Homo sapiens: one gene and its partners. The protein of the gene in region 1 purifies or fractionates together with the protein of each later gene. This does not show direct contact. Each region holds a gene or a part of one and is shown in the gene's direction. Other genes may lie near its edges.

Evidence for each region.
Region 2: the proteins of PPP6R3 (region 1) and ENAH fractionate together in Homo sapiens (co-fractionation; one large-scale study listed by BioGRID). This does not show direct contact.
Region 3: the proteins of PPP6R3 (region 1) and AP1B1 purify together in Homo sapiens (affinity purification with mass spectrometry, with the first as the bait; one large-scale study listed by BioGRID). This does not show direct contact.
Region 4: the proteins of PPP6R3 (region 1) and AURKA purify together in Homo sapiens (affinity purification with mass spectrometry; 8 studies listed by BioGRID and IntAct, with this or other methods). This does not show direct contact.
Region 5: the proteins of PPP6R3 (region 1) and CDC37 fractionate together in Homo sapiens (co-fractionation; one large-scale study listed by BioGRID). This does not show direct contact.
Region 6: the proteins of PPP6R3 (region 1) and LIN28A purify together in Homo sapiens (co-immunoprecipitation; one large-scale study listed by IntAct). This does not show direct contact.
Region 7: the proteins of PPP6R3 (region 1) and TNPO3 fractionate together in Homo sapiens (co-fractionation; one large-scale study listed by BioGRID). This does not show direct contact.

The regions. Positions count from the first base shown.
Region 1 is NC_000011.10:68,599,825-68,603,878, forward strand, and holds part of PPP6R3 (serine/threonine-protein phosphatase 6 regulatory subunit 3), read left to right. Parts: intron 1-516; coding exon 517-670; intron 671-2,038; coding exon 2,039-2,145; intron 2,146-3,517; coding exon 3,518-3,668; intron 3,669-4,054.
Region 2 is NC_000001.11:225,520,253-225,524,306, reverse strand, and holds part of ENAH (protein enabled homolog), read left to right. Parts: intron 1-4,054. UniProt on the Homo sapiens protein: Ena/VASP proteins are actin-associated proteins involved in a range of processes dependent on cytoskeleton remodeling and cell polarity such as axon guidance and lamellipodial and filopodial dynamics in migrating cells.
Region 3 is NC_000022.11:29,329,017-29,333,070, reverse strand, and holds part of AP1B1 (AP-1 complex subunit beta-1), read left to right. Parts: intron 1-1,154; coding exon 1,155-1,284; intron 1,285-1,537; coding exon 1,538-1,622; intron 1,623-2,361; coding exon 2,362-2,448; intron 2,449-2,538; coding exon 2,539-2,693; intron 2,694-3,350; coding exon 3,351-3,359; intron 3,360-4,054. UniProt on the Homo sapiens protein: Subunit of clathrin-associated adaptor protein complex 1 that plays a role in protein sorting in the late-Golgi/trans-Golgi network (TGN) and/or endosomes.
Region 4 is NC_000020.11:56,389,315-56,393,971, reverse strand, and holds the start of AURKA (aurora kinase A), read left to right. Parts: upstream 1-1,756; 5' UTR 1,757-1,804; exon of another isoform or gene 1,805-2,181; intron 2,182-3,306; exon of another isoform or gene 3,307-3,416; intron 3,417-4,657. UniProt on the Homo sapiens protein: Mitotic serine/threonine kinase that contributes to the regulation of cell cycle progression.
Region 5 is NC_000019.10:10,397,043-10,401,096, reverse strand, and holds part of CDC37 (hsp90 co-chaperone Cdc37), read left to right. Parts: intron 1-4,054. UniProt on the Homo sapiens protein: Co-chaperone that binds to numerous kinases and promotes their interaction with the Hsp90 complex, resulting in stabilization and promotion of their activity. Inhibits HSP90AA1 ATPase activity.
Region 6 is NC_000001.11:26,420,500-26,424,553, forward strand, and holds part of LIN28A (protein lin-28 homolog A), read left to right. Parts: intron 1-4,054. UniProt on the Homo sapiens protein: RNA-binding protein that inhibits processing of pre-let-7 miRNAs and regulates translation of mRNAs that control developmental timing, pluripotency and metabolism.
Region 7 is NC_000007.14:128,995,933-128,999,986, reverse strand, and holds part of TNPO3 (transportin-3), read left to right. Parts: intron 1-696; exon of another isoform or gene 697-764; intron 765-2,451; coding exon 2,452-2,598; intron 2,599-4,054. UniProt on the Homo sapiens protein: Importin, which transports target proteins into the nucleus. Specifically mediates the nuclear import of splicing factor serine/arginine (SR) proteins, such as RBM4, SFRS1 and SFRS2, by recognizing phosphorylated SR domains.

The DNA.
Region 1 (4,054 bases):
AGAAATGGGAGGTTTGAGGCCAGGCGCGGTGGCTCACGCCTGTAATCCCAGCACTTTGGGAGGCCAAGGCGGGCGGTTCACGAGGTCGGGATATTGAGACCATCCTGGCTAACACAGTGAAACCTGTCTCTACTAAAAATACAAAAAATTAGCCAGGCGTGATGGCGGGTGCCAGTAATCCCAGCTACTCAGGAGGCTGAGGCAGGAGAATGGCGTGAACCCGGGAGGCGGAGCTTGCAGTGAGCGGAGATCGTGCCACTGCACTCCAGCCTGGGCGACAGAGCGAGACTCCATCTCAAAAAAATAATAATAAAAAGAAATGGGAGGTTTGAGAATGTGGGATCATTGTTAGAGTGCCCTCCAGGTGGCTGTGCCCTGTCCGCTCCTGCCCTCATTGGTGAGAGTGTCTTTCTCCCACAGCTCCAGTCTCTTTTGCTAATGTGTTTTTGATAAATACCTTGTGGTACATGAAACGACTGAAGTGTTTTCCAAATAGAATTTCTCCCCTCTTTTTAGCACCCAACTGGTCAGCTAACTTTGATGTCCCAATGGAAACAACCCACGGTGCTCCATTGGATTCTGTGGGATCTGATGTCTGGAGCACAGAGGAGCCGATGCCAACTAAAGAGACGGGCTGGGCTTCTTTTTCAGAGTTCACGTCTTCCCTGAGGTGAGCGAACATGTGCTGTCTCTACACCCTTCCACGGGGGACCTGGGAATGGTCAGGTGTTTGCTGTTAACGTGTGTTCTTCACCTTGACTGACTTCCAAGTTGAATATACTGCCCTGAAAAAGATTAAACATCAGCATACTAACACAGCTCTGTGTTGTAAGAAGAACAATCACCATCTTCCTTTCCTTTCCTCCTGGATTAATTGGAAATGGGAGTAGTTCTTGAACAAAGTAGCTTGTGAGGATGCGGTCCCAGGGAGTTAGCAGGACGCAGCAGAAGATGCATCTCCGTGAGCTTTTCTGGCTTCATAGAGCTGTCAGGACAGAATTGAGGAGAAGAGGAATGAGGTGAAGCCAAGAAATCCTGACAGGCACAGCACCTCTGTGTGGGGTGTGGCAGGCAAACAAAATGGATCTTGAATTCAGTAGATAATATGAACTTACAGTTCACTTGCAGCTAGTCCAGTGCTGTCAATTAAGGGCTCCCAATCATTGGTAACTCGGAAGATAGGAAGACAAGCTGTTTTGGGCTGACAGTTAGTGTCTTAGACAAACCAAAGAATAGGCTGAAACCCATGTTGCTTTGTAGTAACCATAGTAATAGCATTAAGTTACTACTCAGAGGTACAAGTGAGATTTGTGAAAAATGTCTCCAAAATAATGAGTTATTTCGTCTACCCCGCTTTTCAGTACAGGACATACATTTCCGCCTACTCCTTTTTTTGGTCTGTTTATAACCCGAGGATAAGAGCCTTTGGTTACTTGAGGGTGTGATTGAAGCAGCTTGCTTCTCTTTACCCTCTGTGTGCACGTCTCTGAGTTTGTGGGAATGAGGGATAAAAGAGGAAGTGTAATGATCTCCCTCACCCCTACCCCTTACTGCTCAGGCATTTGGTGTTTTTTTACTATGTTTCCACAGTTCCAACAACAAATATCATTAAGAGGGCCAGTCTCTCCCAGGCAGTGTGGCTGAAAATAAGTAAAGGTTTTTGTAAAACCAGTCAACCTGATAAATACCGTTGCCATTGCACAATGTACGTCTTTGCTGTTCAAGCTCTGGGAGCCTCCTAGTGACTATGGTGGGATGAGAAGTTGGGACATGATGAGCCTGTCTAGAATGCTTTACAAAGTCCCTGTCTTACTGCCTTGCTGGCTTAACAGAACATTTGCCTGCCCGCACTCATGTCCTTCTTCAAACAGCTACTGGCACTTAGATCCATGTGTCACTGGAGTTTGTAACCCAGTGACTCTTACACAGATGCTAATGTCTCCTAACAAAAACTTACTTGTAAAGGCTTATTGTGAATCTTGGGGTAACTGAGGACCATTCCCTGCTGCTAATATCTGAATTTTCTCTTTTTTGAAAGCACAAAAGATTCTTTAAGGAGTAATTCTCCAGTGGAAATGGAAACCAGCACTGAACCCATGGACCCTCTGACTCCCAGTGCGGCTGCCCTGGCAGTGCAGCCAGAAGGTGCGTGCAGAGAGGCCTGGGTACACGCCAGGGTCACGTGGCTGCTTTGTCAAACCAGACCTGATTCTCAGGCTCAGGGGCTAGTGGAGCCCGGGAGTGAGATGGTGGGTCTGATGTCCACAGGGCAGCTGATGAAAGAAATTGTGCCTGTCCTTCTAGAACCACAGCATGCTGACTCTGGAAAGAGTAAGGGCTCTAAGTTACCAGGCATGCAGTGTGCAGATTAGGAAACTGAGGTCTAGAGGGAAGAAGGCCTAAGCCCATAGTACCCAGGGTGAATAAAACTGGAATTAGACGTGTGCAGCCAAGCCTGTGTGTAGTTGTCCCTTGGAGTTTGCTTTGCTCAAGCATGTAGGTGTATCTGGGTTTGTTTAGAGCTATGGGGCTGGTTATTTTCACTTCGCCATTGTAAGCAGATTGAATAGTCCTGGGAATCTCTAAAGTTCCAGTGGGTTTTCCTATTACTCTACCTAGTCAAATGTGTTCCTTGCACGGCCCTGAACTGTTTTCACCTTGATGGACGGGGCTTTGGGAGGAGGGGGATGCTAGCAAAGGGAGTGTGATGGGAACCAAAAGGATGTGGAGGGCACGAATCATGAGGTGGGCTTAAGGAGTGAGTTCTTAGAAAATGAAATGAGGTTTTGGTAGAGGGTGTGAGAACCCTCCTTCCCAGGGGCAAGGGAAAGGAATAAAACCAATAACTAATGCTGGTTTCATCATCCTCCTGAACATTTGATACAGATTCCCGCATTTGACTCCTCAGTGGTTCTGTAAGTGGGTGCACTGATCCCCTTTCCTGGATGAGGAAACTCAGGTTATAGATGAGGTTCCTTGTCCAAGTAGTCTACAGCTAGGAAGTGGTGATGTCGATGTTTGAATCCAGGAAGCCTCACCTCAGCCAGGCTCATCACCTATGTTGGCTTCCCATTAGAGAACAAAGAAACGATCCACCAGCAACACCACAAGAAAGTAATTTTTAAAACAAAGCAAAGCAAATAGAGCCCAACTGAGGAAAACAAGTGAGTAGAGGGTAGAGTGTGTAACTGCCTGCTCTGCCCCACACTGGAACAGTTAGGAGCACAAGTGTCTGCTGGGAGAAGCTGGGTATGGAGGTGGACGCTGAGCTGGGAGGGATGTAGGCGACTTGCTAGTCTCTAGTAAAGAAAACCCATGAAACCCCTCTTTAGTGGGCATCTTTAAGAAGTCTCTCCCCATCAAGAATGTGGCCCAGACAACAGCAGGCAGAAGCCATCTCACTCTTTTTTTTCTTCAAGCAGTAGATGTCACGTTGGGTAGATGGGTTTGTACAGTGGTGGGGTGCCAGTTCCTTTTCGGGCTTGCTGTGTGTGACCATCAGCTGTGTTCTTTTCAGCGGCAGGCAGTGTGGCCATGGAAGCCAGCTCTGACGGAGAGGAGGATGCAGAAAGTACAGACAAGGTAACTGAGACAGTGATGAATGGCGGCATGAAGGAAACGCTCAGCCTCACTGTAGATGCCAAGACAGAGACTGCGGTCTTCAAAAGGTAACCAGGGGTGAGATCCTGCTGGTAGCTTCAGGTTATTGGGAGGATGGTGGGGCAGAAACCTCAAACATTAAAATTTTTAATTTGATTCAAATGAATGTTCAGATACTAGCTTGATGTCTTTCTGTTGTCTCCATTAAACACAATAAATCTTAATGAAGAGATGGAGAGTTTAGGCCCCTAAGTGCCTTTTCCCCCATAAATGTGTTCAGAAGACTGTATTTTACATCTAGCAGTTTGATAGAACTATGAGAATTGATAAATCTTTAATCACAATAGAAATTGGCTTGTGTAACAGGCTACAGAGCATGGCCCATGAAAACCGGTTTCAGGTCGACTGGTTTTACAAAAACCTTTACTTATTTTCAGTAACATACAGATGATTA
Region 2 (4,054 bases), on another chromosome or scaffold:
TATTTTGAACTGATGTTACTTAACATTTTACTTGCTTCAAGAAATGTCTTTGAGTCAACATAAACTAAATAATGAATATATATTTAAAAAGCTATTAATCTCAATGTGGGCTGATGCTTTGTGCATCTATTTACATTTGGGGATAGCTGTTTTGGAGAGAAATAGGTATTTGGGTGGTGGAGGAACTGTGTCTGATATTTTTTAAATGCTTAAAAAATAATATTGGTGATTTGCACTATAATTGTTTCTGAAAAAAATTTATATTCTCAGAAACTTTCAAATTATTGTAGAATATATATGCCTAGCTTAAAAGAAAAATTAAAGTAGTCCGTCAGGATTTTTCATGGTTCAGAATTAAGGCACTCTTTCTTTGAAAAAAGTCCTCAGACGATTCTATTAATGACTGAAGAAAACAGTTGGAGAGAGAACTCTAGGAAGAGGAGCCATGTGCATTTCCAGTATGTGAATTGGCAGCGATAATTCTGAGGAAAAGCAAAGTTTATAAATTTGGAAACTCCTCCTAGAAAGCTACACAAATGTCTTGCTTTAGAGGTCAAAACATGAGAGTCAAATTTATAAACCATCCAATTTAGGTGGGAATTATTCATGCCACACAAGATTCGGAAGCCAGAGATTTTCTGCTTGAATCACTATTTTGGGAAATCCGTTTAGATGGGCATCTTTTCAGCAAGCAAGCTAAAAATTAGCTTAAAGTGTTCAACACTTTCTTTTCTTACCTTCAGAACAAGAAAATAGTAAGAATCTCCTGCAGCTATATGAATTGCCTGCTTGAATCATCTGTCTGTGAACTTAGAAATATTCTCCAGCATTGTGTCCTTTTCCTATATCAGTAGACACTCCTTATCTTTTATAGCCTGAAAACCCTGGAATATGATGACATGTGGAACAAACTTCTTAAGTCAATACAACCTAGCTGTAAATGCTGTTACCAATAATTCTTTCAGATTCACCTCACCCATGCCTGGCCTTCTGCTTGTGACTTAAGCTTACTTTTTGTGTGTTAAAAGCATTGTATTGCTTAGAGAAACAGCCATTAACTTGGTGGTTAAAAAAAAACCCAACTACTAAGAACTTGAATGAGAAATGAAATGTAGTCATAGAATACTATTTGGTTCAGCTGTGAGCAGTATTTACATTATCATGTTAATAATGTAAGCTGTGAATATTGATTTTCCATATTGGGAGAAGCATGAGTGTAGTGAGGGAGTTGTAGAAGGCATCTTCCTGTTAGAAAGTAGATAGCAAAAGCTAAAATGTAAGAAACAGCTGCAAGAGTAGGAAACGGGTGGGAGGGTTGAGGCAGTGAACTACTGATTTTTGTTATAAACTTTAAAAACTATATATTTATGTTGTTTTGGTAAAATAGAAGAAGTAACAAATGCTCAAAGATCTAAAAACTTAGATCTTTTCATCATAGATTTCTTGGGACAGCTACTGTGCTCTTAAATGTTTCTCTTTAGCTTCTGTATTTAAATTTGTTCTAATTAGAATAATATGGGTGTATCTTTTGCCCTTTGGGCCCAACAGATTGCTTAGAGCATTATATGTAAAATGGCCCATATTTTTTGATGTAGGTTGAATTATCTGAAATTTAATACAGGCTCCAGCTGAGTTTATTAACTGCAGGTTACTGGAGAAACAACAACAACCAACCCTGACTTTCCTCTGTTTATTATTAAAAACATTCTTTTGAATACATCTAATTTCTTCCCCTCATCCCTGCAGATAAAGTTATTGTTATCCCTCAAAAACTTTGGCAGCTAGTGATTTATCAAATAGCATAATGAAGTCCGTACTAGATCCTGAAAATCTGATTTTATTAGTAGTCAGTATCTCAAACAACTACTCATAAATAAATAACTACTCATAAATAAAGTCAGTTTCTTGTGTTTTTCTCTTGCAGTCATTGTTAAGTGTGATGGTATGTCCAGGAGAGGGTGTGTGTTTTATGAGAGCAGTGGGGTTGATGTATTTGTCAAATGGGCCTTTTCTTTTGTTGTATAGCCAGCTTAGGAAACATGAAGGAGAGAGATTTTTGGAAAGATCTTACTGGTGTGTTGGTACCGCTGGAAGGAACAAAGGGATAGCATGCATGTGCTGTCATTTAGCTTTGTCTCTAACTAGACCCACCCAGTTTATTAGCCAGTCCAGAAAGTCCCAATTTGAAATTTCCAAATAATAACTATTGTTGGGCCGGGCGCGGTGGCTCACACCTGTAATCCCAGCACTTTGGGAGGCCAAGGCGGGTGGATCATGAGGTCAGGAGATCGAGACCATCCTGGCTAACACTGTGAAACCCCGTCTCTACTAAAAATACAAAAAATTAGCCGGGCATGGTGGCGGGCACCTGTAGTCCCAGCTACTCGGGAGGCTGAGGCAAGAGAATGGTGTGAACCTGGGAGGTGGAGCTTGCAGTGAGCCAAGATTGCATGGCTGTACTCCAGCCTGGGCGACAGAGCAAGACTCTGTCTCGGGGAAGAAAAAACAAAACAAAACAAAAAAACTATCGTTATAGCCCACATTGAACGTTCTTATGTTTCAAGTACTTCTTAAAGAGCTTTTAGGTATTACTTCATTTAATCTTCCCCACAGTGCTATGAAATACGTATGTGTAAGATAAAGATACTTTTTTTTTTTTTTTTTTGGAGACAGGGTCTTACTCTGTCACCCAGGCTGGGGTACAGGGGCATAGTCTCAGCTCACAGCCACCTCCATTCCCCGGGTTCAAGTGATCCTCCTGCCTCAGCCTCCCAAGTAGCTGGGATTACAGGCGCACACCACCACGCCCAGCTAATTTTTGTAATTTTAGTAGAGACAGGGTTCCACCATGTTGGCCAAGCTAGTCTCAAACTCCTGACCTCGGCCTCCCAAAGTGCTGGGATTACAGGCATGAGCCACCGTGCCTGGCAAAGATAACTTTTTTTTTAGGGAAGGTTAATTGACACAACTTTTCCTAAAGACAATTTGGAACCATGTATCAAAAATCTTAAATTCATACCTTTTCACCTAGCAAAATTTATGTCCTTATTGATCCTATAGAAACAGAAAAAGATTCAAAGATGAAGACAAATGTTATTGCAGTATTGCCAATAGTGTTAGGATAACTTAATATCCTACTGTAGGAGACTGCTTAGACTGTGGACAGCAAAATAATCGAATATTATTATGCACTCATGGAAAATAAAGATGCTGAACTAAGTGCCTTAGGATAACTCTGTGTGTGTGTGCGCGCGCGTGCGTGTGTCCATCCAGAGTTGTACACACAGGCAGGTTCTCATCCCAGATATCCTCAGTTTTACTAACTTATGTCTCCCTCCCTCCCTCCCTCCCTCCCTCCCTCCCTCCCTCCCTCCCTCCCTCCCTTCCTCCCTTCCTTCCCTTCTTTTTCTTCCTTCCCCGCTTCCTCCTTTCTTTTCTTTCATTGTTTTTGGAGACAAGGTGTCATTCTGTTGCCTGGGCTGATGTGTGATGATGCAATCTTATCTTACTGTAGCCTCAGACTCCTAGGCCCAAGCAATCCTTCTCCCTCAGCCTCCCAAGTAGCTGGGAATACAGGTGCATGGCACCATGCCTGGCTGATTTTAAAATTTTTTGTAGAGATGGGTCTTGCTTTGTTGTGCAGGCCCATCTTGAACTCTTGGGTTCAGACAATCCTCCCACTCAGCCTCCCAAAGTGCTAGGATTACAGCTGAGCCACTGCTCCCAGACCAACTTTCACAATATATTAAGTGAGAGAAAGGAAAGCAGATTTCACAGTAGCGGGAAATGGTTACATTTTATTTTGTTTTTAAAGTTTATATGTGTATTTTTACACAAGGGGAAGTCTAGAGGTATATAGGGGTGCGTGTGTGCGCGTATGTGTATATATAGATGTGTGTCTTTATATACATATGTTGATGATAGTTGCCTCTGGATATGAGATTTCAATCATTTAAAGTTTATTTCTTCTTTCTTGACTCTTTTTCATTCAGTAAACTTTTTTTTTTTTTTTGAGGTGGAGTCTTGCTCTGTCACCCAGGCTGGAGTGCAGTGG
Region 3 (4,054 bases), on another chromosome or scaffold:
CAGAAGTGCACCAGGCTCCGAGAGGTGGTTCCAATGGTTGCCTCTAGCAAACTTACTGTGTGCTGAATGCTTCCTGGGCACCCAGGCCCTGTGGCACCGGCTTTGGGAGTATTGTCTCACTTGAGCCACTTGATGGCCCAGCAAAGTCACTGCCATCACCCCTTTTTAGTAGGTAATGACACCTGGGCTCCTTGGACAGCTCACATAGCGAGCAGTAGTGGAGCTCCCAGGAAAGCCTAGTGTGCTGAGCCACCAAGCGGACCTGGGGTTCCCCAAATGGTCTCCCTCTGTGTCCCAGGCAGGCTGATGGCTTCTTGGGCAGAGCACAGGCTGGGGTCAGACAGCCCAAACTCTGATTCTCAGCAGCGCCCTCACCCTATGGGGTCTGACACAGGCCTGCTCCTCCCTGAGACGGTGTCCTCATCTAGAGGATAGGAAGAGGTGTACCTGGCTCTGTTTTTATGAGGCTAGGAGCAGGTATAATATTGAATCCGCAGCCCAGGTATACCGAGCCCTCGGTTTGTGCCCCCAGTCCCATGCCCTGTGACTTACCTTCCAAGAGCCTGCTGCTGGCGTGTCTCACACCCATGAGGATCTTCCTAATTTGTCACTGTGCTGCTTTGCAGAGAAGCAGAGCTTTCCTGAATCTCTCTGTGGCCACTGTGTGACCTGGCAAGTTCTGGCCAAGAGAGTAAAATCTAGCGTCTTGCTTGGGATGGTCAGATCCCTTCTGGGAGTTGAGGATTGGCAGCAGAGACTTGGGTGGTCCCAGAGTTTTCAAGGTAGAAGCAGCTTATACTCCAGGCCCCTGGCATTAGACAGAGCTCCTTGAGGGCAGGACAGGGCAAGGCCTGCCTACCTGGGCCCACCAGTGCCTGGCCCAGAGGAGAGGAACAGAGCTGGGCTTCAGGCCTGCAGCCAGGCTGGGGCAGAGCAGAGCAATTGGCCTGGGGCTCTTTCTTTCTGTCCAGATGGCCATCTGGGGGAGGGGACCCACAGCCCATCCTTCTGTCCAGGGTCCAGAACATGGGAAGGCTGGCACGGTGAGAGGCTCCCTGCCAACCACAGCCCCAGCTCCCGAGTCGGAGGAGCTCACCTGTCCCGCATCAGCACCTACTCCCCCTGCCATCCCTGTGGGGCTTCTCTCTCCCCAGCTTTGGCCTGGCCCCCGCCGCCCCCCTCCAGGTCCACGCGCCACTCAGCCCCAACCAGACAGTGGAGATCTCCCTGCCTCTCAGCACGGTGGGCTCGGTCATGAAGATGGAGCCTCTGAACAACCTCCAGGTGGGTTCCGGGCAGGGCAGGCACCCCAGTCCTTACTCACCTACCAGCCGGGCCCCACTGGGGTCAGTAGAAGGTCGTGTCTGCGGAGTCATGCTCTTAGCTGCAGATGTGTTGGGGAGGCCCAGGTTGGGGAACGAAGGGGTGTGTTTACCAGGGAAGGCCCTGGGAGAGAATCTGCTCAGTGACACTCTTCCTGGGGCCTCAGAGGTGGCGTCAAGCCCCAGAGACTGACTGGGGACCCCCTTGTGCCTAGGTGGCCGTGAAGAACAACATCGATGTCTTCTACTTCAGCACCTTGTACCCACTGCACATCCTCTTTGTGGAGGACGGGAAGATGGGTGAGTCATGAGGGAGCCCGCTGGGGTGCCTGAAATGGGGCTGTGGCTTGGGAACCTGGCCAAGGTGGTGCCTTTACCAAGGTCCAGATGGACTGCCTTGCCCGTAAATGGAGTCGGGGAGTTGCTGCTTCCCTGCAGGGCCTGGAGTGAGGGGTATACCCAGGACCCCCCCGGCCTTAGTGGCCAGTTCTGGTCTGGCAGGTGGGCTGTGCCACATGGAACTCACCCCACTCCCAGGCTCTCCTGCTCGCTCCTCAGCCTTGTCCCATGGGCTGCAGCGAGCCCAGGTCATGCCCCACACCTGGTAACCCCCTCCTCTGTGCCCTTTCTGGAACCCCCAAGAAGGGTGTTGATCACAGCACACAGACGGCCTGCACCCTGCCCCTGGCTGCGTGGAGCCCTTGGCCCATGTCATCTCTTGCTTGCCACAGAAGGCCTGCATGGGAGGCTGTGACTAACGAGCAGGCTGCTCACCGAGGAGGAGGAAGGCGTGTGGGGGTGGGGAGGGGAGATCCAAGGCCTGGAGGCAGGAAGCCAGGGTCATTTGGAAGCGGCACTGGGGCCTCCCTCACAGAGCGGAGGGTGTGCTTAGGGAAGCAGGAGGGCTGTGCGGCAGCTAGTGCCTGTTGTCAGCTTTCACGTGGCACAGTAAAGGCCAGACCCATTTCCTGCTGAGCTACAGAGGGCCCACAGGTTTATGAGGGGCTCGCCTCTCATCCCCACCCTGCTCACCCCGCAGACCGGCAGATGTTCCTGGCCACATGGAAGGATATTCCCAATGAGAATGAGGCCCAGTTCCAGATCAGAGACTGCCCCCTCAATGCAGGTGAGGACTCCGAGCCCCCGACCCCAGCCCCTCGCCTGTACCCAGGCCCCCGCGCTGACTGGGGCCTCTCACGGCCATGTGACCCCACAGAGGCTGCGAGCAGCAAGCTGCAGAGCAGCAACATCTTCACTGTCGCCAAGAGGAACGTGGAGGGCCAGGACATGCTCTACCAGTCCCTGAAGCTGACCAACGGCATCTGGGTGCTGGCGGAGCTGCGGATCCAGCCGGGCAACCCCAGCTGCACGGTGAGAGCCCCGGCACCCGCCCTGCAGCCTTGGAGCCTCCCCTTCGTCCCATGCCAGGGGGTGGCCCTGGTGGAGGACGCGGTCCAAGCGTCCCTTCAAGCCTGGCTTGAACTAGAATCAGTTTGGTCCCTGAGAAGGACCTTTCTAGAAAGCTTCCAAATCAACCCCGTCAGGTTACCCAGATAAGACACCAATTGGGTCTCGGAACAGTGAGTTGGACTAGAAGATTGTGTAAAATTGGGCCCTGTAAGGTGGTGCAGTTGGTTTGGCACCCCTGACTGGGAAGTGACATTGCTGGGCACAGGCCCTGGCCCTGTCCTGTGAGTGCCTGCATGTCCAGCTGGGAGGACAGTGGTTCCCAGGAGCCTGAACCTCCCAGCCTTTGAGGTAGACCTGTTAGAGAATGGCTTCCCTGGGGCACACAGTTGTCCTGGAGGCCTGCACCGCTGTTCCAGGGCCCCGGACAGCCCCAAACTCTGCTTCTCCCCCACACCCCTGAGTCTCTGGCAGGCATGGCCCTCCAGACACTGCCCCTCCTGGGTCCTGCTGGCAGTGCTGGTCGGTGGGGGGCTGTGGCGTGGCTTCGGTGGTGGTAACTTCCGTCTCCCTGTGTTTGGTTGCTGCATGTCACCTTCCCTGCTGGTTCCCGTGGTGCAGGACTTAGAGGTTAGCAGATCGCTTTCTCTTTCCCCGTCCGCCCTCCCCAGTCTTGTCTCCTGTCATGGCCCCCATGCACCCCATGTCTCCTGTCTGCACCTCATCTCTTGGCCTCACCTCACCCGGGGGGCTTCAGCCAGGTGGCCCTGATTGAGGTGCTGACACCCCACTTCCACACATTCACAGTGTGCACAGAGTCCTTCCTAGGAGACCTGGAGGGCCCGTGGGCTGCTGCTGACCTGCGGAACTCCATTGTTCCCACTTCCTAACTGCACCCTGCAGAACCAGTGCTTTAGAGTGGATGGGTGGGGGCTCCTCTCTCCTCTGCCTGTGATCTCAAGCTCAGGCCCCAGAGCGGAGGCAAAGTCTCTACCGTGCCTGCTTCCTACGCAGGAAACCAGGAATGAGCCCAGCACCCCTCCAGGCTCCCTCCCAGCCCTCCGCACCCCCTCGGGATTTTCTGTCAGGCTTCAGTCCTGAGGACCCCAGACCTTCAGGGACTCTGGGGGGCCGGGCAGCCCTCAGGGTGGGGGCCGGGCACTCCCTGGCAGCCTCCGGCTCGTGACTCACACTGCTCGCCAGCAGGGCTCTGGTGACTGGGCTGACAGCAGGTGTGTGGGCTGCAAGTATATTTGGTCCACACCCGGCTGGCTGCGACAGCCGCCCCCTCCGCTTTACCTCACATCTGTGCCAGGCGCAGCTGC
Region 4 (4,657 bases), on another chromosome or scaffold:
GAAGGAGTTCAGGAAATGCCAGCCCAAAACAAGATGCTTTGGCGGGCTGATTACCTTGAACTGAGGGCACCTGGAGAACAGCAGGCGGGAAGAGGCTTTCCCTGTGCTTTCCTTACCTGCCTAAAGTCTGACCCTCCAAAAATACCTCAATTGTCACGAATCCTTATAAACCAGGGAAGATTAACTCGGATCACATGAGAGATTAGAGGCTGACACCACCCAGAAGATCACCTATTCTGTCTGCATAACAAACTTGATTCACCATACATTTCCTCCGTTCACCGTCCCATAACTTGTGTTAGAGCTGCTTCCCGCCCCCCGCCCCCAATTCTCTATTCATTCCTTTCAGTAGCTCAGGATGCCATGTAGGCTTTAATCATCTGACTTCAACTTTTAGTCTCGTATTTTGTGGGACTCCTGTACGTAATTAAATATCGTTTTTCTCCCATGGACAATGTTCAGTTACCCGAAAAAAATGGGAGATTCTTAAGTACCAATAAAGAATGAAAATCACAAGTGGGTAGTCTGGCAAAGAAAAGTTGATGAGAGATTCTACTGTTAACGTTGGGTTAATATGACTCGAATAATTTCCGTATGCTAGCTCAATGCTTTACATGCACATCCTGTTTACCCTGCAGTAATCTGTTAATTCGTCTTATGTGAATTTAACTCTTAGTCCTAATAAGGTACCTGGAAGGATGGAGGGAAGCCATTTTTGGTTCCCCTACACCACTGTTCTATCCGGTCTCTTCACTTCTGCTGAGCACATCCCGGGTGTACATACACACACACACACACACATATGTGTGTGTATATATATGTATATGTGTGTGTGTGTGTATATATATATATATTTTAAGTGGCCCACCCCTAACTTCTCAACTCCCACAGAACGTTCACTCGCCAGGTAAACAGAAGCCTAATTATCCCCAATTTGCAGGTGAGCACACGAGGACAAGAACCCGATCCAGGACCGGATACATCGCAGTTGGAAAGGCTAGAACACAGATGCCCCCTCACTATATGCGCCGCGACCATCTGGATGCAGAGGCGAACTAAGGACTGGGTGGGAATGGAAGCGAGGCCCTTCGAGAAGAGGAAGGGGTGCAGGCCAAGCCGGGCAACTTAGGAAACGCAAAGTAGAGGCGCATGCCACCTTGCTAACTCTCGACTCTTCCAGTCTCGCCCCAGTCGTTTCTGTGGTTTTCTCTAAATGCCCCAGCCGACCGCACCAGCTACTCTCCCCGTGTCCCAGTACCAGCTGGTCCGGTTCTCTTGGTATCCCGCTCTCTCCTGGAAAAATGGAGGCGCGAATCCTGCCCAATCTACCGCTCCGAGCGCACGTTCACTGCGCACGCTGAAAGGGCGCCAAGCCGACCGCTGCGCTATCGATCGGTCCCACTCTCTCTTGCTTTTCTCGCCATCTTACTTACTGGCACGTTCAAAGGTTAGTTCACCTCCTTGGACTTTATCTCCAATGCGTCAAGCTTGACGTCAAGGGGCTGTTGCTTCACCGATAAATGGCCGACCGCGGAGAGCACCCTGGGGCTGGGACTGCCACAGGTCTGGCTGGCCGTTGGCTCCACCACTTCCGGGTTCTTAGGGAGCAAGTGCGCCTGCGCGCGGTGTGCGCCCTTAAACGCGACTCAAGGCGTCGGGTTTGTTGTCAACCAATCACAAGGCAGCCTCGCTCGAGCGCAGGCCAATCGGCTTTCTAGCTAGAGGGTTTAACTCCTATTTAAAAAGAAGAACCTTTGAATTCTAACGGCTGAGCTCTTGGAAGACTTGGGTCCTTGGGTCGCAGGTGGGAGCCGACGGGTGGGTAGACCGTGGGGGATATCTCAGTGGCGGACGAGGACGGCGGGGACAAGGGGCGGCTGGTCGGAGTGGCGGAGCGTCAAGTCCCCTGTCGGTTCCTCCGTCCCTGAGTGTCCTTGGCGCTGCCTTGTGCCCGCCCAGCGCCTTTGCATCCGCTCCTGGGCACCGAGGCGCCCTGTAGGATACTGCTTGTTACTTATTACAGCTAGAGGTACAAGGGGTTTGTTGAGTGGTGTTGACATGCGCGGGAGGGGTGGGTGGGCTTCAGATTGGATTTTGTCCTCCGAGATCACCTGGGTAAGAAAAGCACAGAAGGTCTCTGCTGTGTTGGAGTTCACGTTCTAGTGGGTGGGGAGACAGACGGTAAGCGTACGGAGAACTTGCAGCTGGGGTGGGTGTTACAGAGGAAAAGCAGGAGTGCGGTTTAACGGGGGCCGCTTTAGATAGAATAGCCTAAGAAGGCCCTTGTCCTGGCTGGATGAGTGGGTGAATTGATGAATGAGAACCTCCTTGCAGAGGCCTTCCCGGTCCGTACTTCTCAGACCGTAGACCTTGGAGCAGTTGTACCGGGATAACTTGCAGTGCTTGTTAAACATATAGCTCCACCGAGAGCCCGGTAAATCAGAATCTCTGAGGGGTAGGACCCAGGTGTCTAGTTATTAACAAACTCTCCAGATGATTCTTAGGTTTCATTGAGAACTAGGGATGCAGACCGGTGCATACAAATCGTCTGGGGACGTTAAAATGCAGAATCTGTTTTTTTAGACCTGGGGTTAGGCCTCAGAGTCTCCATTTCTAAGAACCATCCGGCTGAGGTAGACGTAGCCACTGTCCTTAACTCTCGTAATGTCTCTTCCTCTTCCGTAACCTTCCTTGTCCCTTGAATTAAACGTTTTTCAGCAACCTACTCAGTTCGTCCTTCCCTTCATCTCTGCAGACATGCACAGGTCTGAGGGAGGAAGGAATAAACCGTATAAACCTCCTGCGCTATTAGCCTAACAGCTTTTCTATTCAAAATAGTAGGACTTCTGGTTTGAACTGAATGGATCCTGTGAAAGTCATCTGGTTCTTCAATCTGGTTGCAGATTAGAGTCACCTGAAGGGCAGTCTCCTTGGCGTTGTCTCCAGAATTCTGGATTAGAATCTTATTCCATTCTGCTTGTTATTCAATTTCCCTAGAAAGAAAGGTAGAATAAATTGGAGCAAATGCCTGTAGCTTCTGTCAGAAGAATGTTGAATAAATGTTGTTAGGCCTATGTGATCTCATTAGACTGCTACTTAGAATTGTAAGGGAAGTAAAGCATTAGAGCATGTGTGAAATTAAATATTTGATTAACACAAGTGTGCATTTCCTTGTTGCTGTTTATCAACTTTTACTTACCCACTGTTTTTTTATAAGGGCTGCAGCCTGTAGTCTGGGCCTGGCTTCATCATGGAATTATTTGCTTAATTGTAAAATGGTAATCTTAATTTTTTTTTTTGAGACAGGGTCTCACTCCATTGCCCAGGCCAGAGTGCGGGGATATTTGATAAGAAACTTCAGTGAAGGCCGGGCGCGGTGGCTCATGCCCGTAATCCCAGCATTTTCGGAGGCCGAGGTGGGTGGATCACCTGAGGTCGGGAGTTCCAGACCAGCCCTACCAACATAGAGAAACCCTGTCTCTACTAAAAATACAAAATCAGCTGGGCGTGGTGGTGCATGTCTGTAATCCCAGCTACTCTGGAGGCTGAGGCAGGAGAATTGCTTGAACCCAGGAGGTGGAGGTTGCGGGTGAGCCGAGATTGCGCCATTGCACTCCAGCCTGGGCAACAAGAGCAAACTCTATCTCAAAAAAAAAAAAAAAGAAACCTCAGTGAAATGAAAGACTGAACTACACACCTGGGGGAAAAGCGTAATAAAGGGAGCAAGAAGTGCAAATGCTTATGGCAGGGGACTTATTTGCAGAAAGAAAGCCTTGTGTGGCTGGTACACGGTTGACAAGAAGAGGAGATGAAGTCAGAGAGGTAGTTAGGGTCCATGTTCTGTGAGACTTCAATAGGCCTGTCTATGCAGGTTAGGAGTTTGCATTGTTTTGATTGAGTTGGGAGCCATGGGGGTCTTCTGAACTGAGGATCAACACATCTGATTTGTTAATGAGATTGCCGGCCTCAGTGTTAAGAATGGACCATGACAGGGTAAGGGTGGAAGTGGGGAGGCCATTGGGAGGCTGTTGGAAAAAACTCAAGGGAGAGAGAATAATGGTTTGACCAGGTGGTAGTAGTAGAGGTGGTGAGCAGTGATCTTGAAGGCAGAGCCTACAGAATATGCTGGTGGATTAAATGAAGGGTTTGCGAGAGAGAACCTCGTAAAGGGTTATTATGCCAAGGCTTTTGGCCTGAGCAACTGACAGGATGGGTTTGCCATGCACTGAGATGAGGATGTCTAGAGACTAGATTTGGGGAGGTGAGAGTGGGGAGAGATTAGGACTTCTGTTTGGGACATGTTAGAATGGAGATGCCGCTCAGATAATCAGGTGCAGATGTTGCATAGAAAGTAGAAAATGTAGATCAAGAGTTCAGGGGAGAGGTCTGGGCTGAAGAATGAATATTTGGGAGTCCTCAGCCTGTAGATGGTACTGAAAGCAAAGAGACTGGATGTACTCGGCTAGGGAGTAATTGGAGATGGAGAAGTCATTCTAGGCCTGAGCTCAGGGCACACCCATGAACAGGGAGGTGAGAAGTGGAGAAGGGAAGAGGTTCAGTTTTGGATATGTTAGGATTGAGGTGCCTGGCAGACATTTTTGGGAGATCCTGGGCAAATCCTTGGATATCCAAGTCTGACAGTCCAAGGAGAGACTAG
Region 5 (4,054 bases), on another chromosome or scaffold:
GAGATTGCTGTCGTTCAGAGCACAGGCCTGACTAGGTTCAAATCTCAGCTCTGTCTGTATCACTCACGTGCTGCGTGACTGCCAGGGAGCTGTTTGATCGCTCTGTGCCTCAGTTTCCCTACCTGAGAATCTGAATGATGTCCACCCCATAAGGTTGTTGTAAGGCTTACCTTATTCATTTAATATTTGTAATCCTTTTGGGGCAGTGGCTATTATCATCATCATCATTTAAATAATTTCTGTTCATGGTTAAAAAAAAAAAAATCTGTAGCCACATGTGGTGGCACATGCCTATAGTCCTAGCTACTCAGGAGACTGAGGCAGAAGGATCATTTGAGCCCAGAAGTTCAAGTCCAGCCTGAGCAACATAGCAAGACCTTGTCTCTCTCTTTTTTTTTTCGAGACAGGGCCTTGCTTTGTCACCCTGAGATGGCAGTGGCGCCATCTCAGCTCACTGCAACTTCCACCTTCCGGGCTCAAGTGATCCTCCTACTTCTGCCTCCTGAGTAGCTGGGACCACAGGTACACACCACCATGCCTGGTTGATTTTTGTACTTTTTGGTAGAGACAGGGTTTCACCATGTTGCCCAGGCTGGTCTCAAACTGCTGAGCTCAGGCAATCCACCTGCCTCAGCCTCACAAAGTGCTGGGATTGTAGGTGTGAGCCACCAAGCCTGGCCTAAGACCTTGTCTCTTAAAAAAAAAAATTTCAAAGTTTCCAGAAGCGGACAAATGAATCCCTTTTCTCAGCCCCAGCTCGCCGGCTCTCCTGCCCAGAGACAGCTGCTGTTAGTGGTTTCTTCTAATGAGTTGTATGACATTGAGATTCTGTGAGCCTCAGTTTCCCTAACTGTAAGGCAGGAGGGTAGTGACATCTGTGGGCCCTGCTTGCTGGGGTGGCTTCTCCCCTGCCCAGCCTGCTACAGCCCCTCCCCGATAGGAGGTGTAAAGCCCAGGCTGGGCAGGCTGCCGCCCCCGCCAACTCCAAGAGGCCTTTTTTAGCTGCGGCCTCCCTGGCAGTTGTTCAGAGGACACAGGGGAGACTGGTGGCAGCCCAGCAGCGGATTGCAGGGTGGTGGGCAGGCTCCAGGGTGACACAGGCCCATCGTGGAGAAAGGGAGTTGGAGAGGCCACAGCTGCTTTTTTTTTTTTTTTTTTTTTTTTTAAGACGGAGTCTCACTCTGTTGCCCAGACAGGAGTGCAGTGGTGCCATCTCGGCTCACTGTAACCTCCACCTCCCAGGTTCAAGCAATTCTCCTGCCTCAGCCTCCCGAGTAGCTGGGACTACAGGTGCGCGCCACCATGCCCGGCTAATTTTTGTATTTTTTAAGTAGAGATGGGGTTTCACCATGTTGGCCAGGCTGGTCCCGAACTCCTGACCTCATGATCTGCCCGCCTGGCCTCCCAAAGTGTTGGGATTACAGGCATGAGCCACCACACCCAGCAACTTTTTTTTTTTAAGAGATGGAATCTCACTATGTTGCCTAGGCTGGTCTCAAATTCCTGAGCTCAAGTGATCCTCCCACCTCGGCCTCCCAAAGTGCTAGGATTATAGGCATGGGTCACTGTGCCCAGCCTGCAGCTGCTGTTTATCTCATGAGGTATAGCTTTTTTTTTTTTTTTTTTTTTTTTTCAGACAGGGTCATGCTCTGTCGCCCAGGCTGGAGTGCAGTGGGGCGATCTCAGCTCACTACAACTTCTGCCTCGGGTTCAAGCGATTCTGCCTCAGCCTCTGGAGTAGCTGGGATTGCAGGCGCCTGCCACCACGCCTGGCTAATTTTTGTGTTCTTAGGAGAGACGGGGTTTCACCATGTTGGCCAGGCTGGTTTCAAACTCCTGACCTCAGGTGATCCACCCGCTTCGGCCTCCCAAAGTGTTGGGATTACAGGAGTGAGCCACCACGCTCGACCACGTAGGCCTTCTTGACCCCTTATACATATAGGGGAATCCGAGGCTCAGGCTGGCTGTGTCAGTCCCCTGGGGTATTAGAGTAGGGGCCAGCTCTGCCTGGCCCTGCCTTAGAACCTGGGGACACAGCCTCAGATAAGGCACAGGAATGAGTCAGCAGACCATTCAGGTGGCAGTGACAAGGACGGAGATGGTAACAGTGGGACACACCTACTGAGGGCTGTTTTGGAAGCATTTTCCATAGAGTTAGTCATTCAGTTCTCACGGCGATCCTGTGAGACTCCATTTCACAGAGGGGAAGACCAAGGCTGGGAAAGGTTTCAGTGACATGGCCAAAGTTCCATCTCCCGTCAGTGGCACAGCCGGGTGCTGTGACCATGTAGTAACAACCACTCCCAGTTATTGAGCGTGTACTCTGGGCCAGAAATTAAACTAAGCATTTGAAGGACATTTCCTTTTTGAGGCCCCAGAGTGGTCCCCAGAGAGAGAGAGAGATTGTTCTCTTGCACAGATGGTAATGACCCTGGCCAGTACAGGAAGGGTGCGTGCTGAGGGCCCACATGGCTCGGGACATTTTACTCTAATCATCTCCTTAGTTTCTTCCAATATGAGCTTGTGCAGTCAGCATTGTTGACTGTTTGACAGATGAGGAAACTGAGGTTACAGGAGGTTAGGGGATGGCCCGGGATACCCAGCCGGTACATGGTGGCTGTGGGCTAGGACCCAGGGGCCGTTGCCCCAAGGCTGTCCTCCAGCACCCTCACCACATCGTCAGATGGTCACAGGAGGTCCTTTAGGGATCAGTGGTGCCTCAGGCAGGGAGCATTTGGGGAAGGCTCTGTTGAAGCTGAGTTTTGGGTGCAAAAGCAGGTAAGGGAACCGCACATGCAGAGGCCAAGAGGCAAGACAGAGCCCGTACTTTCGGGGAACGATGAGGGCCAGTATCTGCCTGGGACCCAGGACCAGGATGCCAGGATCAGAAGTCCCATCTGAATTCAGACCCCCCAAGATGTAGTGGGGAGGACTCTGGTCACGTGGTCAAATGCATGGGCTTCACAGGCCTCCCTGGTGGCAGCTGTGCCTGGATTGGAGAGGGTCAGCAATTGAAGGTGGTGGCACGTTTCAGGGTTTCAGGGTTTGATTAGTGGCTCTGGATAGAGCAGCCTCCACTGAGGTTCAGGAGAGGTGATGGTGGAGCCACGCAGGGGTCTCAGGAGAGGCCTGTACAATCCGATGGGGCCCAGATGGAGGTCTGAGGGAGACAGGGAGTGAGGCGGGGACCAGGAGCCTGAGGAGATGAGGCACTGTTATAAGGAGAAAGAGGAGTGCCTGGGGAGTGACATCTGGGGCTGGGGTGAGCGGGAAGCAGGTAGACACCAAGCTGGGGCTCAGGAGGGCATGCTGGGCTGGAGACAGAGCTAAGAGGGCCTTGGCAGTGATCCTGGGGCAAGGTTATGGGTGGAACAAAGAAACATCTAGAAGGGGCCCTGGTGCAGTGGCTCATGCCTGTAATCCCAGCACTTTGGGAGGCCAAGGTGGGTGGATCACTTGAGGTCAGGAGTTCAAGACCAGCCAACATGGAGAAACCCCGTCTCTATTAAAAATACAAAATTACCCAGGCGTGGTGGCGCGTGCCTGTAATCCCAGCTACTAAGGAGGCTGAGGCAGGAAAATTGCTTGAACACGGGAGGCAGAGGTTGCAGTGAGCCAAGATCACGCCACTGCACTCCAGCCTGGGCGACTCCGTCTCAAAAAAAAAAAAAAAAAAAAAAAGCCAGGCTTGGTGGTTTGTGTGCACCTGTAGTCCCAGCTACTTGGGGTTGAGGCAGGTTGAGCCTGGGAGATCAAGGCTGCAGTGAGCCATTATCACACCACTGCACTCTAGTCTGCATGACAACAAGACCTTGTTCAAACAAAACTGAACAAAATAAAAACAAAAAAAAAAACAAGCATTTGCTGAGCCCGTGCTTTGCACCAGGCCACGTTCCTGGTTCTGGGAACAAAATGGCGAACACGTTCCCATATTTAGAGAGCAGGGCTTCATTCATTGGAGGGGGGCAGTACCCAAAACGTGATAAATAATTGTCATATGATGTTAGTGGTTGCTGATGTTGAGGAGGCAGGGAATTCCAGACAGGGGCAGCGG
Region 6 (4,054 bases), on another chromosome or scaffold:
GCTTAAACCCAGAAGAATCGCTTAAACCCAGGAGGCGGAGGTTGCAGTGAGCTGAGATCGTGTCACTGCACTTCAGCATGGGCGACAGAGCAAGACTTTCTCAAAAAAAAAAAAAAAAAATTAAGTGATAAGGAATCTGTGGTTCCTTCATCTTGATGAAGAGCATGTTTCATTTAAGTTCCAGTTTGGAATATTACCCCCCAGCCACCAGCATAAAATACGAATGCTACTTACTCATGTTCCCTTGAGCCAGGACTAGGTAAGTGCACAGTGATCCCTTTTGCTTCTCCATTTTCTATGACGACTACTCCTTGTTGACATATTTGACACTGTTGTTTTACTATAATAGATGAAGCTGTAATGAAGTCTATTCTGGGTAGGGTCTGAGATGCTGTCACCTCCGCTAATGTCAAGTTGGTGGTGCAGTAAGTGGCATGATAGAATGAGCTCTGAGCTTTAAATCAGGAACTCTGGGTTCATCTGACCCTGGCTTTGCTACAGAACTAGCTGTATCAACAACTACTTTTTTTTTTTTTCTTGATGGCTGCTGGCTGTTTGCTAACTGCTTTATAAATATCAGTGTCCTTAAATTTTGGTACAAACGTGCAGTGTTCTAATAGGATTATTCCATACATATTGTTCTAAATCTTGCTTTTTGTTTTTTCTTTTAACAATATTATTTGGTGATCTTTCTCAGCTGAATGATTAAAAATCTGCCTCCTGTTTCATTAATTCATTCAAAAATGTGCTAGGCATTATTTCAGGTACCAAAATGTGGCTGTGAACAAACCAAAGACTTTACGTTGTTCTTAATGGCTGCGTGGTATTCATTATTATAGATGTACCATATTTATTCAACCATTCCCCTTCAAATACACCAGTAGGTTATTTCCAATTTTTTTAAAGCAACAATGAGATACTGAGTATATGTGTCGTGCTAAGACTTCCTACTGATAATCTACTTATATTATGTTGTGTAATTCTTTTTTCTTAGTGATTTATGGTATATTTTTGTAGTTTTACCAGTCTGATTATCTGTCTTAACTTTTCAGTATTTTTCTTAACAATGAGGTGTTTAAATCCTCTGAAATGTATTTTGCATATGTATCATACAAAGTCTGTAGGAATATGACTTCCTTTCCCAATGGATTATTAATTTTTATAGCAGCATTTATTGAATTATTTTTCTTACCTATTGATTTCTCCATATATTCTCAGATCTCTGTGATTTTCCATTTTAATCCTCTGATCCATCTGCTTGGGTTATACTGTCTTTCGGTAACATTATTTTGATATAATTTCAAACTTTAAAAAGGCTGCAAGAACAATACCCAACACTCCCACATAACCTCTACCCAGATTCATTGACTCTTAACATTTTGCCCCATTTGCTTTATCATTCTCTATCTTGCTACAGATAGTTTTTTTTTTGAAACCATAAGTTGGAGACAGTAAGCACTTTTATCTCTAAATATTTCAGTGCGTATTTCCCAAGAATGGGAATATTTATCTTTTTTTTTTTTTTCTGAGACAGGGTCTCACTCTGTCACCCAGCCTGGAGCACAGTTGTGTGATCTCTGCTCACTGCAACCTCTGCCTCCTGGGCTCAAGGGATCCTCCCACCTCAGCCTCCCCAGTAGTTGGGACTACAGGTGTGTACCACTGTGCCTGGCTCATTTTTGTATTATTTTGTAGAGATGGGTTTTTGCCATATTGCCCAAGCTGGTCTCGAATTCCTGGGCTCAAGCAATCCGCCCATCTTGGCCTCCCAAAGTGCTGGGGATTATAGGCATCAGCCACTGTGCCTGGCTGGGAATATCAATCTTACATCGTTTCAGTACACTAATCATAATCAGGAAATTAAACACTGGTACATTTATCTATATACCATATGCAAATTTTGTCAATTGTCCTATTTTTTTTTTTTTTTTCCTGTTTCAAGATCCAATCTGGAATCTTGGATTTCATTGAACTGTTCAGTTCTTCAGGCTTTGTCTTTTTATGACCTTGACATTTTTGAAGTCCTGTTTTATAGGAATGTCCCTCAGTTTGGGTTTGTCTGATGTTCCCTCAAGGTTAGATTCAGGATGTGCATTTTTAAAGTCATAAGTCCTTAGTGCATCATATTAGAAGATATGTGTGTCCCATTGTAGGCAAAGCTAAACTCAAAGAACTTGACTAGGGTATTATCTGCCAGTTTTCTCCACTGTAAACTTGCTGTTTTTCCCTTTGTAGTTGCTACACTGCTGATTATATCCAATTTAAATTGTAATATCTGGTATTCTTGGCAATTTATATTTTCCCATAGCCTTTAGAATCACTCAATCTTCCAATCCAAGATCGTGGTATGTTTTTGCATTTTTTCCTTTAATATATTTGAGTTTTTTCTTCATATAGGCTTTTTACCTTGTTAAATGTATTCTGAGGGTTTTGGTGTTTTTGTTTGTTTCTGAGAGAGGGTCTTACTCTGTCGCCCAGGCTGGAATGCAGTGGCATAATCTTGGCTCACTACAACCTCCGCCTCATGGGCTCAAGTGATGCTCCCACCTCTGCTGGGATTACAGGGGTGAGCCAGACAGAGTCTCGCTCCATCACCCAGGCTGGAGTACAGTGGTGCCATCTCTGCAACCTCTGCCTCCCGGGTTCAAACAATTGCCTCAGCCTCTCGAGTAGCTGAGATTACAGGTCTGCGCACCATACCCAGCTAATTTTTGTGTTTTTTGTAGAAATGGCATTTCGTCACGTAGGCCAGGCTGGTGTTGAACTCCTGGATTCATGTGATCTGCCCACCTCAGCCTCCCCAAAGTGCTGGGATTACAGACAGGCATGAGCCACTGTGCCTGGCCTATTCTGTTTGTTTGGTTTTTTAACATGTTTTGCAGCCATTATTATGATTTCCTTTTTTTTCTTTTTCTTTTTTTTTTTTTTTTTTTTTTTGTTGTTGTTGTTGCCCAGGCTAGAGTAGAATGGCGCAATCTTGGCTCACCGCAACCTCCGCCTCCCGGGTTCAAGTGATTCTCCTACCTCAGCCTCCCAAGTAGCTGGGATTATAGATGCCCACCACCACGCCTGGCTAATTTTGTATTTTTAGTAGTAGAGACAGGGTTTCTCCATGTTGGTCAGGCTGGTCTCAAACTCCTGACCTCAGGTGATATGCCCGCCTCGGCTTCCCAAAGTGCTGGGATTACAGGCATGAGCCATTGCGCACGGCCCATTAGTATTATTTCTTAAATCATTGAGCATCTTGAGTTTGTTTTTTTGTTTGTTGGTTTGTTTGTTTTGCGACGGAGTCTTGCTCTGTCACCCAGGCTGGAGTACAGTGGCGCGATCTCAGCTCACTGCAAGCTCTGCCTCCCAGGTTCATGCCATTCTCCTGCCTCAGCCTCCGGAGTAGCTGGGACTACAGGCACCCGCCACCACGCCTGGCTAATTTTTTGTATTTTTAGTAGAGACGGGGTTTCACCGTGTTAGCCAGGATGGTCTCGATCTCCTGACCTCGTGATCCCCTGCCTTTGCCTCCCAAAGTGCTGGGATTACAGGCGTGAGGCAGCGCACCCGGCCTTTTTTTTTTTCTTTTTTAAATAAGGCATATCATATTGCTTTGATTATAAAAATACCACTTGATTTTGTATTTTTTCCAGTATTCTACTTATTTGGTCTTTTGATGATGGTATAAATACTAAGTGAGGCATTATGTGAAAAATGAATATTTCAGTGCTTCATAGCGTGACATTTTATTTTTATTTTATTTATTTATTTCTTTGAGATGGAGTCTTGCTCTGTCAACCAGGCTAGAGTACAGTGGCATGATGGCTCACTGAAACCTCTGCCTCCGGGGTTCAAGCAACTCTCCTGCCCCAACTGCCCAAGTAGCTGGGATTACAGGCGCCCACCACCACACCCGGCTAATTTTTGTATTTTTAGTAGAGACAGGGTTTCACCATGTTGGCCAGGCTGGTCTCGAACTCTGGACCTCGTGATCCACCTGCTTCAGCCTCCCAAAGTGCTGGGGTTAAAGGCGTAAGCCACCGTGTGTGGCTGAGCCACCATGCCC
Region 7 (4,054 bases), on another chromosome or scaffold:
GAGGTTTGCTAGATTTTTTAAAATCTCATTTATTTGAGAAGTTTTACCTCTTTATAGTATAAGAAATGAGAAAGGGTCGGGGTTGGTGGCTCACACCTGTAATCCCAGCATTTTGGGAGGCCGAGGTGGGCAGATCACCTGAGGTCAGGAGTTTGAGACCAGCCTGGCCAACATGGTGAAACCCTGTCTCCACTAAAAATATAAAAATTAGTCAGGCGTGGTGGCTCACACCTGTAATATCCCAGCTACTTGGGAGGCTGAGGCAGGAGAATTGCTTGAACCTGGGAGGCAGAGGTTGTAGTGAGCTGAGATCGGGCCACTGCACTCCAGCCTGGGAGACGAGCGAAACTCCGTCTCAAAAAAAAAAAAAAAAGTGAGAAAGAAGTGCTCCCAAGTTGGGCATTGTTTTAAATAGCTCTGTTTTGGATCCTTGATGGGAAAAGGATGGTAGGGATCCTCTTACTGTGCCTTAGGCACAGTGGTCCTGTGACTCTCGGCCTGTTTTCTGTTATCACATACAAGACAACGTTTATTTGTTTTACATAATGTTACGAGGATACCTAGATTTGAATGGAACCCAAAACATTTCTGGGAGAATGTAACACCACGCAGTTATCACTCCTTTAAACAGTACCATATGGAAAAGAGGCTACGAGTAAAATCCCAGGCTTTTTCTCCCTTTCTCTCACACTCAAGGAAACAGGTGAATAAAAGTGACATGAAGCTGAATCAGTTATGTTCAGGAGTTACAGATGGTTTGCCAAGTAAGAAATGTTCTAATCTCAAACATTCAATGAAATGATTTCAGAATTTTCAGAAAAGTACTTTAAAAAAGACTTCTGGCCGGGCGCAGTGGCTCACGCCTGTCAGCACCTTGGGAGGCCGAGGTGGGCAGATCATAAGGTCAGGAGTTCAAGACCAGCCTGACCAACATGATGAAACCCCATCTTTACTAAAAATACAAAAATTAGCTGGGGTGATGGTGCGCACCTGTAATCGCAGCTACTCAGGAGGCTGAGGCAGGAGAATCACTTGAACCCAGGAGGTGGAAGTTGCAGTGAGCCAAGATCACACCACTGTACTCCAGCCTGGGTGACAGAGCAAGACTCCATCTCAAAAAAAATAAATAAATAAAAATAAAAAGACTTCTGGCTGGGCACAGTGGTTTATACCTCTAATGAGGTTCATACCTCTTAACACTTTTGGAGGCTGAGGTGGGAGGATTGCTTGAGCCCATGAGTTCGAGACCAGCCTGGGCAACAAAGCAAGACCTTGTCTCTACAGAAAATTTAAAAAATTAGCTGGGTGTGGTGGTGCACACCTTTCATCCCAGCTACTCAGGAGGCTGAATGGGAGGATCACTTGAGCCCAGGAGTTTGAGGCTGCAGTGAGCCATGATTACACCACTGTACTCCAGCCTAGATGGCAGAGCAAGACCCTGTCGCTACAGAAAATTTTAAAAATTAGCCAGACATGGTGGCAAGCGCCTGTAGTCCTCCTAGCTACTCAGGAGGCTGTGTGGAAGGATTGCTTGAGCCCAGAAGTTCAAGGCTGCAGTGAGCCATGATTGTGCCACTGTGCTCCAGCCTAGGCGACCCTGTCTCTAAAGAAAATATATATATCTTTTGAGACAGGGTCTCACTCTGTTGCCTAGGCTGGAATGCTGTGGTGCAATCACAGCTCACTGTAGCCTCAGCCTCCTGGGCTCAGGTGATCCTCCAACCTCAGCCTCCTGAGTAGCTGGGAATACAGGCATGTGCCACCTACATGCCTGGCTAATTTTTGTATTTTTTTAGAGATGGTGTTTCGCGCCTGGCTGAAATTTGTTTTAAATAAAATAAAACTATGTGGTGGCTCATGCCTGTAGTCCCAGCACTTTGGGAGACCTAGGTGGGAGGATTACTTGAGGGCAGGAGTTCAAAACCATCCTGAGCAAGATGGCAAGGCCCTGTTTCTACTAAAAAAAAAAAAAAAAAAAAAAATTAGCTGAGCTTGGTGGTGTGTACCTGTAGTCCCAGCTACTTGGGAGGCTGAGGCAGGAGGATCACTTGAGCTCAGGAGTTTGAGGCAGCAGTGAACTGTGTTCATTCCACTGCACTCTAGCTGGGGCAACAGAATGAAACTCCGTCTCTAAAAAATAAATAAAAATAAAGACTTCCATGTCTGTTATTGTTTTCTCTAAATTCAAAATTCAGTATACTTTTGGAGGCATTACCTCAGGACTAAATGGAATGTAAAGCCAGTCATTCTAAATGGAGATTTGGGCCTAACGTGGGAAGACAATTTGGGGAGATAATAGTAAATCTGCTAGAGAAAAGGTGACTTCTTAACTGGCTCCACTCATATTATTTAAAAATATATCTTTCTTCCTATATGGTCGTGGTGATAATAAAATGTCTTCTTATTCTATTCCTTTCCCATTCAAATAAATCATCTCTTTTAACCTAACAGGTAGTAGAAATTTCATTTAACTTTTGGTACCGACTGGGGGAACATTTGTACAAAACTAACGATGAAGTTATTCATGGCATCTTCAAAGCTTACATTCAGAGGCTGCTTCACGCCTTGGCTCGACACTGCCAGCTGGAACCAGACCATGTAAGTTCCCTTCTCTACCTCTTCAAATCTTAATTTCTTCCTCTTGTCAGTGCCAACTTGAAAAGGAACTGAGAAGATAGATAATAAACCTGGCTGGGCACCCTGGCTCATGCCTGTAGTCCAGCACTTTGGGAGGCCAAGGCAGATGAATCGTTAGAGCCCAGGAATTCAAGACCAGCCTGGGCAACATAGGGAATCCCCTGTCTCTACAAAAAGAAATAAAAGAAAATTAGCTGGGCCTGGTGGCACACGCCTGTAGTCCTAGCTACTCAGGAAGCTGAGTTGGGAGGATTGGCAGACTCTACAGCTTATACTGAAGAAGTCAGTACCAGTATAATCTGTTAGGTCTATTTAGGGAAAAAAAAAAGCAAAACACTCCAGCTAAACCAGTAATTCTTTTCCTGGGAGTATATCTTAAATCTGCAGAAGAAAAAAACAGCTATTTTATATACAAAATGTTATCTGTAAAAGTAAAAATTATAAACCCATGTACAGCAGTATAACAAGAGTTATATGAATTATATAAGAAGAGTTATGATTTAGCAACTTGATGCAGCAATTAAAAGGTAGTGAAATGATGATATGGTAAGAGAAAAATCAGAATGTAAAATTATGTACTCTTTTTTTTTTTTTTTTTTTTTTTTTTGAGACGGAGTCTCGCTCTGTCACCCAGGCTGGAGTGCAGTGGCGTGATCTCTGCTCACTGCAAACTCTGCCTCCTGGGTTCACGCCATTCTCCTGTCTCAGCCTCCCGAGTAGCTGGGATTACAGGCACCCGCCACCATGCCAGGCTAATTATTTGTATATTTAGTAGAGATGGGGTTTCACCGTGTTAGCCAGGATGGTCTCGATCTCCTGACCTCATGATCCACCCACCTCAGCCTCCCAAAGTGCTGAGATTACAGGTGTGAGCCACCGCCCCTGGCCAAAATTTTGTACCTTATTAAATAGTAGAAAATAAGTGGTTAGATGAAAACTAATACAAAAGTGAAATATTTGTGTGTATGATTTTGCCCCATGAAGATACACATTTTTTAAATCTTATTTATACTGATTTTGTAGTTTAAAAGAATATAGAAATCTATTTGCTTAGAAAAAAATACTAGAAAATTATTAGTTTATTAGAAAACTCTTCAAACATCATGCTTAGTCTCTTCAAATTTTGCCACATCGATTTCATCCTGTTGGTTGGTTGAATCCGTCCTTTAATCTAGGACCTGCAGTAAGTTTTATTGCTTACAATTAAATCCCACGTGCTGTTCTCTTAATTTTAATGTTAGTATTGTGTTTGAGTCATGGTATTTTGTATCTCCACACAACCTTAGTCATGATTTAGTCTGGTGGTTTTCAAACTGCACCCACCCCCGCTATTTTTTAAAGTGAAGAATCCAACTGGGCGTGGTGGCTCATGCCTGTAATCCCAGCACTTTGGGAGGCCGAGGCGGGTGGATCACTT